Regions from separate parts of the Homo sapiens genome. Here region 1 is linked to region 2. Evidence: fine-mapped expression QTL. Tissue or cell type: ovary. Region 2 holds a variant in brackets; the other region holds the start of a gene. All regions are shown on one strand. Distances are between the middles of the regions.

Region 1 (5,127 bases), 920 kb before region 2:
AAAACTCAGTTCTTAACCATGACAGGATGGGAGGTCAGACACACCTCGTTATACCCCTTCCTATTTGGGATGTAGACACAACAACTGACCAGCATTAATGTTAAAATAGAGATCGTAAGAGTTGCAGAACGGACTCTGTGGCAATAAGATACCAAATTATAAACAAGACCTAAGGCCATGCCAGGCAAGGGTTAAGTCACATACCCCCTACCTTTAAAAGAATGAACTATGTTCTAACTGCCACAATATTTTTTTCACTAGCACTGGCCTCCAGATAAGCAATATTGAAATAATTGCAGTTCATCCACCACCAGATGCTAACTGATTCCCCTGTTCCACAGGCTTTGATAGGACAAGAGAATGATTTCAAAAATTTTCTTTTGATAAGATCACCAACCATGGACTTGTTCTAACAGGTTTACAAGGCCTGTGTACTTAAGTACCTTTGCTTCCCTCCTTCAACTTTTGACGTACAGGGCCTAATTGTAATGCATTTAAATATTAAGTCAGCTTCCCAAAATGAATATGGAGTGCATGTAATATGCATTTTTATTCAGTACAGGTGAGCACATCTCCCTTCGTGAATATTCATAGCCCCTCCTATAACCTGTTGAATATGTATACCTAGCCCACTCATACAGCATAAATCCCTGCCCCAACCCCTCCTCCTCCAAAGTGTGGGCCTTTCTGCTTTGCCTGAGACTATGCTTCCTAGCCTGTCAGGATGGCCACTTTGCAGACTGTAACCCTTTTTAAGAAATAGTCTCTCTAAATTTGCAGATCTCATGATTTTTCAGTTGACACTACTATGGGGACTAATGAAATCTTGTGGCCAGTAAAGAAACTATTTTTCCCTGGTTCTTAAACTTCCAAGTGTGCACACAAATCCTCTGTTAGGGCAGTGTATTTTTTTAAAATGCAGATTCTGATTCAGTAGGTCAGGATGTCGCTCTAACAAACCGCCAGGTAATGCTAAAGCGTCCCATCTGTGGAGCACACCTCAAATAGCAAGGGTCTTTAATACATTTACTCTCATTTGTGGAGGAGCACACCTTTTTCCTCTCCCTTTAACCAGTCACAGCTTCCTCTACTTTCATGACCGCACGCAGACATTTTCTGTAGATCTCCTCCTTCCCATTTTCTACCAATTCTTCTCCAGTTAGCTCAGGAAAAATCCCATTCTTTCTGCACCTATGTCAAATTACTCTTGACTCAAAAATTGAAGACAGTTTATGTTTTCGAGAGGCTTCTATGTTTGAGATGATAATACATAATTACGGTTGCAGAGCTTTTCTCTCCCTCTCCTTCAATAAACCAAAAGTGCCCAGACTTTGGAGTAAAATTTTTGGGTCCCAATCCATCTCTGACAATTCCTTTCTCTGGAACCTTGGACAAGCTACCTAACTTCTCTGAGCCTCAGTTTCTTCAACTATAAAACAGGGCTAACAGTAGCACCTACCTCAGAGGAATGTCAAATTCTCCTGCAGTCTATATTAACTACTTTTCTTTTATCAACTTAGTTTTTTACCGAAGTTATTTTTCAAAGGAATTTTTATGTCATCGTAAACACAAAGTCATTATCAGTTGAGATGGTTAGCTGACCTACCAAAACAAATGCCATGAAACCAAACGGAGTTATTAAATCCCAACTAGAGATACTTCTGCATACTGGAGGCGGAATTATCTAGCTAGGGATATAGTCAAGACTTCCTCCTTGTCAGTCATCCACACAGACGACTGCGATTAAACGAGTTAATACCCTGCAATGCGTTTACAGCTGGGCGCCGTACGCGCTGCTCCCAACTCTAGGCCATCGTCATGACAGGATCAATGCCAGTTCATGCCCACTTTCTAGGGCTGGGAGTAGGAGACCGAGGATGTCTGTGGAGATTCACCCGCCTGGCCCGGGAACCCTGGCCAGCGGGCCCTGGGGGACTTGGGGTGGTCACGTACTGGACTCGGGACTTCTCTTCCCAGGGCGCCGGTGGGTCCTCACACGCTCGCCGCAGGGCCGCGATCTCAGCTTGCAAGGCGCGCACCTCTGCCAGCTCTGCGTCCATGGCGCGTTGCTGACCGCAGCCGGGCCGGCAGCGCAGCTGTCACTCCGACCTGCGCGCTTCACCCGCGCTTCAAGCCTCGCGCGCGCTCCCGGCGCGGACCATCCCAGAGCTCACGCGGAGGGGAGGCGGGAGAGCTCCGCGTGACCCCAGCGGCCCTGCACGTCCAACTCCGCTCTCGCACGAGAGCCTGAGTCCTCCACTTCCCCGCACACGTTTCCCTGGCTGTCTAAGCAGTGGCTATACTTTCTCTGGAGAGCGCGTTCTTTGCTACTCCAAGCCCAAGCGCTCCGCTGCTCACCCTAGCCGGCAGCCTTGGAGCCGCCCGGCCGCGTGCCTCACTAAAGAGGCAGGGCTGGGATCACGTGGAGGGGAGCGCCTCTTTATTTTTTTCACCTACTTCCTCTCTTACGCCGACCTAGTCCAGGAATTGGTACACACAGCGATAGTGTTCAATAGAAACTAGGGGATTTTGGTTTAGGCTCTTTTGCAGTCGTTGAGGGGGAGGTGACGGAGGCGTCAGGGAAGGTGGGAGGACGGAAAAGGAAATTAAAAGCTCTTGGGAACTGAATTGTGGTAACGGAACCTTAGGAGGCTGGGTTGGAAATCGAGTAGGAAGGAAGAGAGGATGCTCCGTTGGGACACGTGACCAGAAGTTAGGGGCTGCAGCGGCGCTGGCTTTAGGTGAACGACGTGGTGAGGAGTGGGTTTCGGGCATGAGAAGTCACAGGGCCGTTTCCTAGTCTCTCTTCACTTCTTTGGGTCTTCTCAGAGAAAGAAGGCTGCCGTGGGTAGGCTGGGGGCGGAGACTATCGGGAAGAGGTAGGCCGAAGTTCTGCCCAGAATACACGCCATGTGGTGGACGCTGGTTGGGAGTCTCTTCTGGAAAGAGTCTGTCAGCTCTTGGGGAAGGGAAGGGCGAGAGCTGAGCGCCTGCCGGGTGCTAAACGAAATGAGAGATACTATGATGGGCCCTAGTACCTCTGGAAAAGTTTTCCTGAGTCCCCTGTGATACAGCAACCTTCATAGTATAGTGTTAAGAATTCCAAGTTCTGAAGGTAGACCTGCATTATAATCCTGGATTCACTAATTTTCGGTATGGCATTGAGGAAGTGACTTAACCTCTTCTGCTCTCCTGAAAAATGGGAAACATGCAAACTACTTTGTACAATGCAGGCACATAGCAAAAACACAAGTCTGTATTCGCTATATCCCTTGATCTTTGTGTCTGAACCCCACTTTGCAGCACTTTTATTGTGACATAATATTGTGCCATTTGTTTTATTCTTTTGTGACTATAAGGAGCTCCTAGCCTCTCTATTCACTTCTTTGGGTCTTCTAGGAGGAAGAAGGCTGGGGTGGGTAGGTTGGGGGTGGAGACAATTAGGAAGAGGTAGGCTAGCTCTTTTTATCTTTTAGTGCGTTACATCCTGTTTCTGTCAGACTTTGTTAAAGACAGTAAATGAATGTATGAGTGAGTCAAGGAAAAACATCTAAAAACATGAATACATAAAATTAAGAGGGATAGAGTGTAATATTATGGCCATTTGGAGGAAAAAAACTCTGTCTGTACCTGTGTCTATATGGGTATGGGGTTGCTGTTCCAAAGTGCATTCATGAAAGATGTGGATGTAGGGCTTGGGCAAAACCTCGAAGACTAAAATTTGGAAGTAATACAATAGGAAGTGAAATACAGATCCAGGAGACGGATTTGATACAGAAGGTTCAGAGGAAGTAGTTGTTTTGTTAGATTTTAGAAGAACTAAGGGAAAGAACTCTTCTCTGTATACAGAAAATTACTTTTCCCACTGAAACACACCCAAGTATATGCCCAGCCTTCATGAAAGTGAACAGAGAAACGAAGCGCCTTTATGTGGGTGGCCTTAGCCAGGACATTTCTGAGGCAGACCTACAAAATCAGTTCAGCAGATTTGGAGAAGTTTCGGATGTGGAGATCATCACACGGAAAGATGACCAAGGTAATTTATGGTCCTTCACTGGGCAGTTATAGGCAGACATAACTCAGGTTAAGTGCTAGAAAATAAAACAACCCCAAGATAAATGTTAGCTCTGAACACCAAAAGTTTTAAGTGATGTTGTGGAGGTATAATGTGTGATGTGGAACTTGACCAGAATTTGTTTCTGAAATAAGAAAAAATTCCAAATTCTAAAACATCTGATTTCAGAAACATATTAACTTCCAGTTTTGAGAACTAGAATTTTCTAACATGGATTAAGTGTCCCGTTAAGTAGACTATCACTAGCATACAATCAAAATGTTTCCTTATCTGACTACTGGACATTTTCTTCTTTTTTTTTTTGGAATATTTTGATAATTATGCTTATTTTTATAGCCAATAAAAAACAAGGTTTATCTTTGAAATAATAAGTTTTCAAGAGCTATTTTTTTTTTTAATTTAGAAACAACCGTTTTTACATTGCTCTCTGGATAAGAATTTAAATAAATTGTTTTGTTTGTTTGTTTGTTTGTTTTTTAGGAAACCCACAGAAAGTTTTTGCATATATCAACATCAGTGTAGCAGAAGCGGACCTGAAAAAATGTAAGATCATCATATATTTTCTATACTGTTTGCCAGTTTGTATGACTCTGTAACTTGGAATAACTGGTTCTAAATCTAAACCTCCACAGCCATTTTTCACGTTATCCAGAGGGACAGCAGTGATGAAGAGAATTCCAGTATCGTATAACTCAGCAGGTTTAGGTCCATTCCATTTGGCATCAGCAGACATGGTAGCACTTTACTGGTGGGTTTACTTAAAACTGCTATTCTCAAATATTTTGGACAAGGGACCAAACTTTCATAGAAACTGCCTGTTACATATATCCCACTGAATATCATGCCACATTCCCCCTCAGTCTGATCATTTCTTTGACAGCTAATCCTTGTCACTAAACACTCTTGAGGGGGCTTTAAAATACACCCTTGTAAGACCGTATCCTTGAAATTGTGAAATCTCTTGTTGATAAGTTTAGTAAAGTCAAGGGCAAACAGTGGCCTTCAATGAAGAATGGGAGATAATCCATACTGCCGCTGACACAGTAACATAT
Region 2 (5,213 bases):
GATCTAAGTTATCATTGGGATCATTTTTAAATGTGACCCCTCGTGGCCGGGGGTGGTGGCTCACGCCTATAATCCCAGCACTTTGGGAGGCCTAGGTGGGAGAATTGCTTGAGTCCAGGAGTTTGAGCCAAGAATGGGCAACATAGTGAGATCCTGTCACTACCCCCACCCCCAAAACCTCCCCAAAATTAGCTGGGTATGGTGGCACATGCCTGTAGTCCTAACTCTGCAGGAGGCTGAGGAGGGAGGATCGCTCAAGCCCAGGAGTTCTAGGCTGTAGTGAGCTGCAATGGCACAACTGCACCCCAGACTGGGCAACAGAGCAAGACCTTACTTATCGCCCCCCCCCCCCAAAAAAAATGTAACTCCTTAGGAATAAAAGGAATATCATAAACAAGCAATTCCAATCCCACTAGAGACCAAAGAAACGCAAAGTAAAATTACACCGTGATACTTTGGTTTCATGATGTCAACCAACCAAACACCACCGCCTCTCCTTCCCACTCACAGAGCCCCCAAGAATGAGAGAAAATGTGTTTAAAACCAAATAAATGTATAACTATATTCAAAAATAAGAAACACAAACCTCAGAGCTCCAGAAGGTTTAAGAATTCCCAGCAAGGTGGCTATCCGGCAGGCCTAGATAGTGAGAGGAAGCTGCGGTCAGTCACAACCCGAGAAAGCTCCCACTGGGTTCCGCCCCAGTGACTGAACAGGAGAGCCCTGTGGGGAACCTGAGTGATCCTCAGGGGCATTGGCTGGGCGAGGACACAGCAGCCACAGCCACCAGCCAGGCCAATCGCAGTGGGGAGCAGCGCAGGGCAGAGTCGGCGGCCGGGGGCGGGGGTGGTTGGGGTGGCCTGCGCCCTGGTAGCCCACAGCGCCCCTGTGCAGTGCACGCATGCGCATGCGCCCCGCGGGAAGGCTGCACAGCTGCATAGCCATCTTGTGCCCATTGTTTGGCCTTTTTTGATTTTCGGTTTTTCATTGTTGTGCCCATTTTTATAAAGAGGAATGCTGAGACTCTGAGAGGTTGACTTGTCGAAACTCTCCCAGCTGGCCATGAAAAGCAGCGGTCAGGTCAGGCACTTTGTTCTTCCCCCGATATACCCGGGAAATGAGACTAAGGCGTCTCTCCAACCTGCATGAGAAAAGGAAGGAGTCCAAGGGAGTATCCAAAGTGACTTTGCTCTGTCAATCAGTAAAACTGCTGTCTAAGCATCTACTTGTATAGATATATAATAACTGTGTAATAACTTTATTCTTTTTTGTCCTCAACCAGCAAACATTCCCAAATTAAAACAGCCCCCATCAGCGTAGGTCTTCCATTGCTCATGGATATGCACACGTGTTTCCTCTCCTGAAGTCAGATTCCTCACAAATGGGCACCTTTTTGACACACAGCCGTTGTTAATTAAAACCTTAAAAGAAATCATGTTACATTTTTTAAAAAACTAGTAGCTGTTAAGCTCATTTTTTGAAAACTATGAATTATTTCTCAGAAATGAAAATTATTGGCAGCACCCACCTGGTTTTTGTTGCTTTGTGTTCTGTGGGGCAGAGATGGGGAGTTGTTGAAGTGTAGTATTAATTACCACTGGGATGTCTTGTGCTGGGCCACCAGCTACTTGCACCAAAAAAATTTAAATAAGAAAAACTTGTGGTTGGGTGTGGTGGCTCACGCCTGTAATCCCAGCACTTTGGGATGACAAGGCGGGCGGATCACCTCAGGTCAAGGGTTCGAGACCAGCCTGGCCAACATGGTGAAACCCTGTCTCTACTAAAAATACAAAAATTAGCCAGGTGTGGTGGCGGGCACCCGTATTCCCAGCTACTCAGGAGGCTGAGAGAGTAGAATCACTTGAACCCAGAAGACAGAGGTTGCAGTGAGCTGAGATTGTGCCACTGCACTCCAGCCTGGGTGACAAGAGCGAGACTCCATCTCAAAAAAAAAGAAAAAAAAGAAAAAAAAAATCTTGCCAAGGATGTGAAATTGTGGCATACTCAAAATACCAGTGAGGATACAGAAGTAAGAGAACATGCAGAATTATGAACCATATAGTCTTCCCAGAAAAAGGTACACAAGGATATCTCTGGAAAGGTAATAAAAAATACAACTGGTTTAAAGAGTCAGCCATGCACGGTGGCTCACACCTGTAATCCCAGCACTTTGGGAGGCTGAGGCAGGCGGATCACCTGAGGTCAGTAGTTCAAGATCAGCCTGGCCAACATGGTGAAAGCCTGTCTGTACTAAAAATATAAAAATTGGCCGGGCGTGGTGCGCGCATCTGTAATCCCAGCTACTTGGGAGGCTGAGACAAGAGAATTGCTTGAACCCGGGAGGCGGAGGTTGCAGTGAACTGAGATCATGCCACTGAACTCCAGCCTGAGTGACAGGGCAAGACTCCATCTCGAGGGAAAAAAAAGAGAGAGAGAGTTTGGCAGTAATTCCCAGAGGTTGCTTATTTTGATTCTAGTGGATGTAAGGAAAAAATTAATTCAAGAATTAGTGAAAATAAGACCCGGGGTAGTATGAGCACCAGAAAATAGACGACACTTCCTGACGAAGAGGCGCTACTTAGAAAGTTGGGAGAGAGAAGCTGTCACTGCTAAGTCATGCTGGAGACCGGCAAAGAGTGGTTACTGTCTGCTGAGTATCGATAAGTCTACAGAGAGGCAAACAGAAGTACTTGTGTAGAGCCTTCTAAAGTAAACTATTTCAGCTAAGTAGCCCAGACAGGTATGACGGCCATTTTTTATACCTCACTTTTGTCAATCTGATCCACTTGAGAAGGAAAAGGTTACTTTGGGGAAAAAACCTTAATAAAGTCCAAAGTTCTGGAGGTCAAGAAACTTTTGAAAGAGTACATGGAAGAAATCATGGTAGGAAAGGAGGGAGAAAAAGGAAGTTGTTCAAGAATAACATAGCAATCTAACAAAAGGGAGATGAAGAACAGGAAGGAACCTCAAAATTAATAACCCCTGAAGTAAACAT[A/G]TTTCAGTATAACAGGGTTAAAAAACAAAGTTGTTCTAACAGCTATGTCAGATTTCTAGTGAGAGAGGGAACTTTCTTTCTGAGAAAAGAACTTTGATATGATACTGGGATCCCAGCAGAAATGCTAAAAACCGTGATGTTTGTAGATGCCTGGCACAAACATAGGTAAGTTGCTTTGCAGAGAAAGTGAGTCAGATGATGGTGGTGATTTGTGCTTTTTTAGGGCAGCGGGGAGGATTGCTTTTGAAAGAAAGAGGATGGAGGAGAAAAGAGAAGGGAGGGAACCCTGCCTGGCTAAAGAGCCAATGCAGACTCCCTGTGGGTGGGCAGCCACAGGACCCAGAAGGCCACTGTCTGATTTGAAATAGTTTCCATTGCCGAATGGAAACAGTCCAGAATATTTCCTCCTTAGATTTTCAGTAGGTCCTACTAGACTCAGAAATGCTTTTTGTGAGTTTTTGTTTGCTGGACTTTATATCTGAGTGAGCATTCTGCAGAGCAGCTTGTCTGAAAGCAGGAGTCCAAGGCCATGGCCATGAAGGCTGACCCGAGGAACCTGCAGAATCTGGAAGGAGACTTGGACTGTGACGACCCATGCAACTAAGACCTGGAGGTCATCTTATCTAGATCTCAGGGGTTAGGGAACACCCCTACCTGCTAATTTTCAATGACCATGAATCGCCTAATGGATACCCAGTTCTGTGCAACATGCTGTAAAGGAAACATAACAAAAAGAAACTATCTCCTTGTGAAGAGTTTTAAATCTACCTGTAAAGGAAAGACCAAAATGCTAAAAGTAGTAAGAGCCAATAGAGTACATTATCAAGAGGTAGAATAGGTAGAAAGAAATCTATCTGGCTGGGTGCAGTGGCTCACGCCTATAATTCTAGCACTTTGGGAGGCCAAGGCGGGCAGATCACAAGGTCAGGAGTTCAAGACCAGCCTGGCCAAGATGGTGAAACCCTGTCTCTACTAAAAGTACAAAAATTAGCTGGGCATGGTGGCGCATGCTTGTGATCCCAGCTACTCGGGAGGCTGAGGCAGAGAATTACTTGAACCCAAGAGGCGGAGGTTGCAGTGAGCCAAGATTGTGCCACTGCATTCCAGCGAGGGCGACAAGGCGAGACTCCATCTCAAAAAAAAAAAAAAGAAATATATCTACCAAAGAAACTCAGGAAACAGAACTGGGAAGAAACTAAAGGACATTTTGGCAATTAAAGAACCTGGATTAGTCAGGTGTGGTAGTCACACCTGTAATCCCATCACTTTGGGAGGCCAGGAAGGAGGATTGCTTGAGCTCAGGAGTTCGAGACCAGCCTGGGCAACATGGGGAAACCCCATCTCTGCAAAAAATTTAAAAATTAGCCGAGTGTGGTGGTGTGTGCCTGTAGTCCCAGCTGGTCAAGAAGCTGAAGTAGGACAATCACTTGAGCCCAGGAGGTCAAGGCTGCAGTGAGCCGTTATTGTACCACTGCACTCCAGCCTGGGTGACACAGCAAGACCCTGTCTCAGGAAAAAAAAAAAAAGACATAAAAAGAAAGCAAAAAAGAAAGAACCTAGATGAGAAGGAAAATTTAGAACTTGGATGAGCAGGGAAGACGTGTTGGGCATGAATACTACTGTTGGGGGCAGGGGGCGGTAAAGTGATGAAGTACTCTGCATCATTGCAGAAGGGAATTTATTCAGAGGATTAGTAACAGAATTCAAAGATGAACATAGAACCAGTTGCCAAAGGACCTTGAATTCCAGGCTTAAGAAAATGCCTTTGATTCACTTAGGAATGGCTGGAGGAAATGTAACCTTGTAAATGCTGCTGAAAGACTTATCAGGGGTGTCAGCTCAAGGTGAATCCAGGTGGGAGAGTCAGGAGAGCAGGTGAGCAGGAGTCAAGAAAAAGATCTGGAGAAGCCAAAGAGCTCTTCCTTCCCTGGGTACATTAGTGTGTTCTGAACACTTCAACAACAGTGAAACCCCAGCAGAGCCAGGGTCACTGAAGATGGTGCATTGTAATGAACCTGTTCTTCATTTTCCGCAAAGTATGATAAGTATCATGATGTTATTTTTTGCTTCTTCAGTTTGTAGTTGCTTTTGTATTGTATGCCCCAAGTGGCACCTAATATCATACCAACATCAATACAGAACAAAATTGGGATAATTACTGAAATAATTCAAGGGAAAATATTCTGAATTTTTTGATATTTTAAATGAGTGTGTTTCT

The links. PIP is the estimated chance that this variant, and not a neighbour inherited with it, causes the effect.
Region 1: it holds the start of CENPP, and the variant in region 2 is fine-mapped to the expression of CENPP in ovary (GTEx, PIP above 0.99).

The regions. Positions count from the first base shown.
Region 1 is chr9:92,322,932-92,328,058 of GRCh38, reverse strand. CENPP (centromere protein P) reads right to left here and starts at 2,106. Exons shown (of 8, transcript NM_001012267.3): 1 at 1,954-2,106. The coding sequence starts at 2,060. NOL8 (nucleolar protein 8) reads left to right here and starts at 2,709. Exons shown (of 17, transcript NM_017948.6): 1 at 2,709-2,753; 2 at 3,850-4,036; 3 at 4,556-4,618. The coding sequence starts at 3,898. RefSeq lists enhancers at 2,501-2,610, 2,641-2,760, 2,539-3,427.
Region 2 is chr9:91,401,522-91,406,734 of GRCh38, reverse strand. No RefSeq gene overlaps it. Among named protein-coding and RNA genes, the nearest start is that of NFIL3, 20 kb to the left of the region's middle. The variant A/G (reference allele first, on the strand shown) is at 2,996.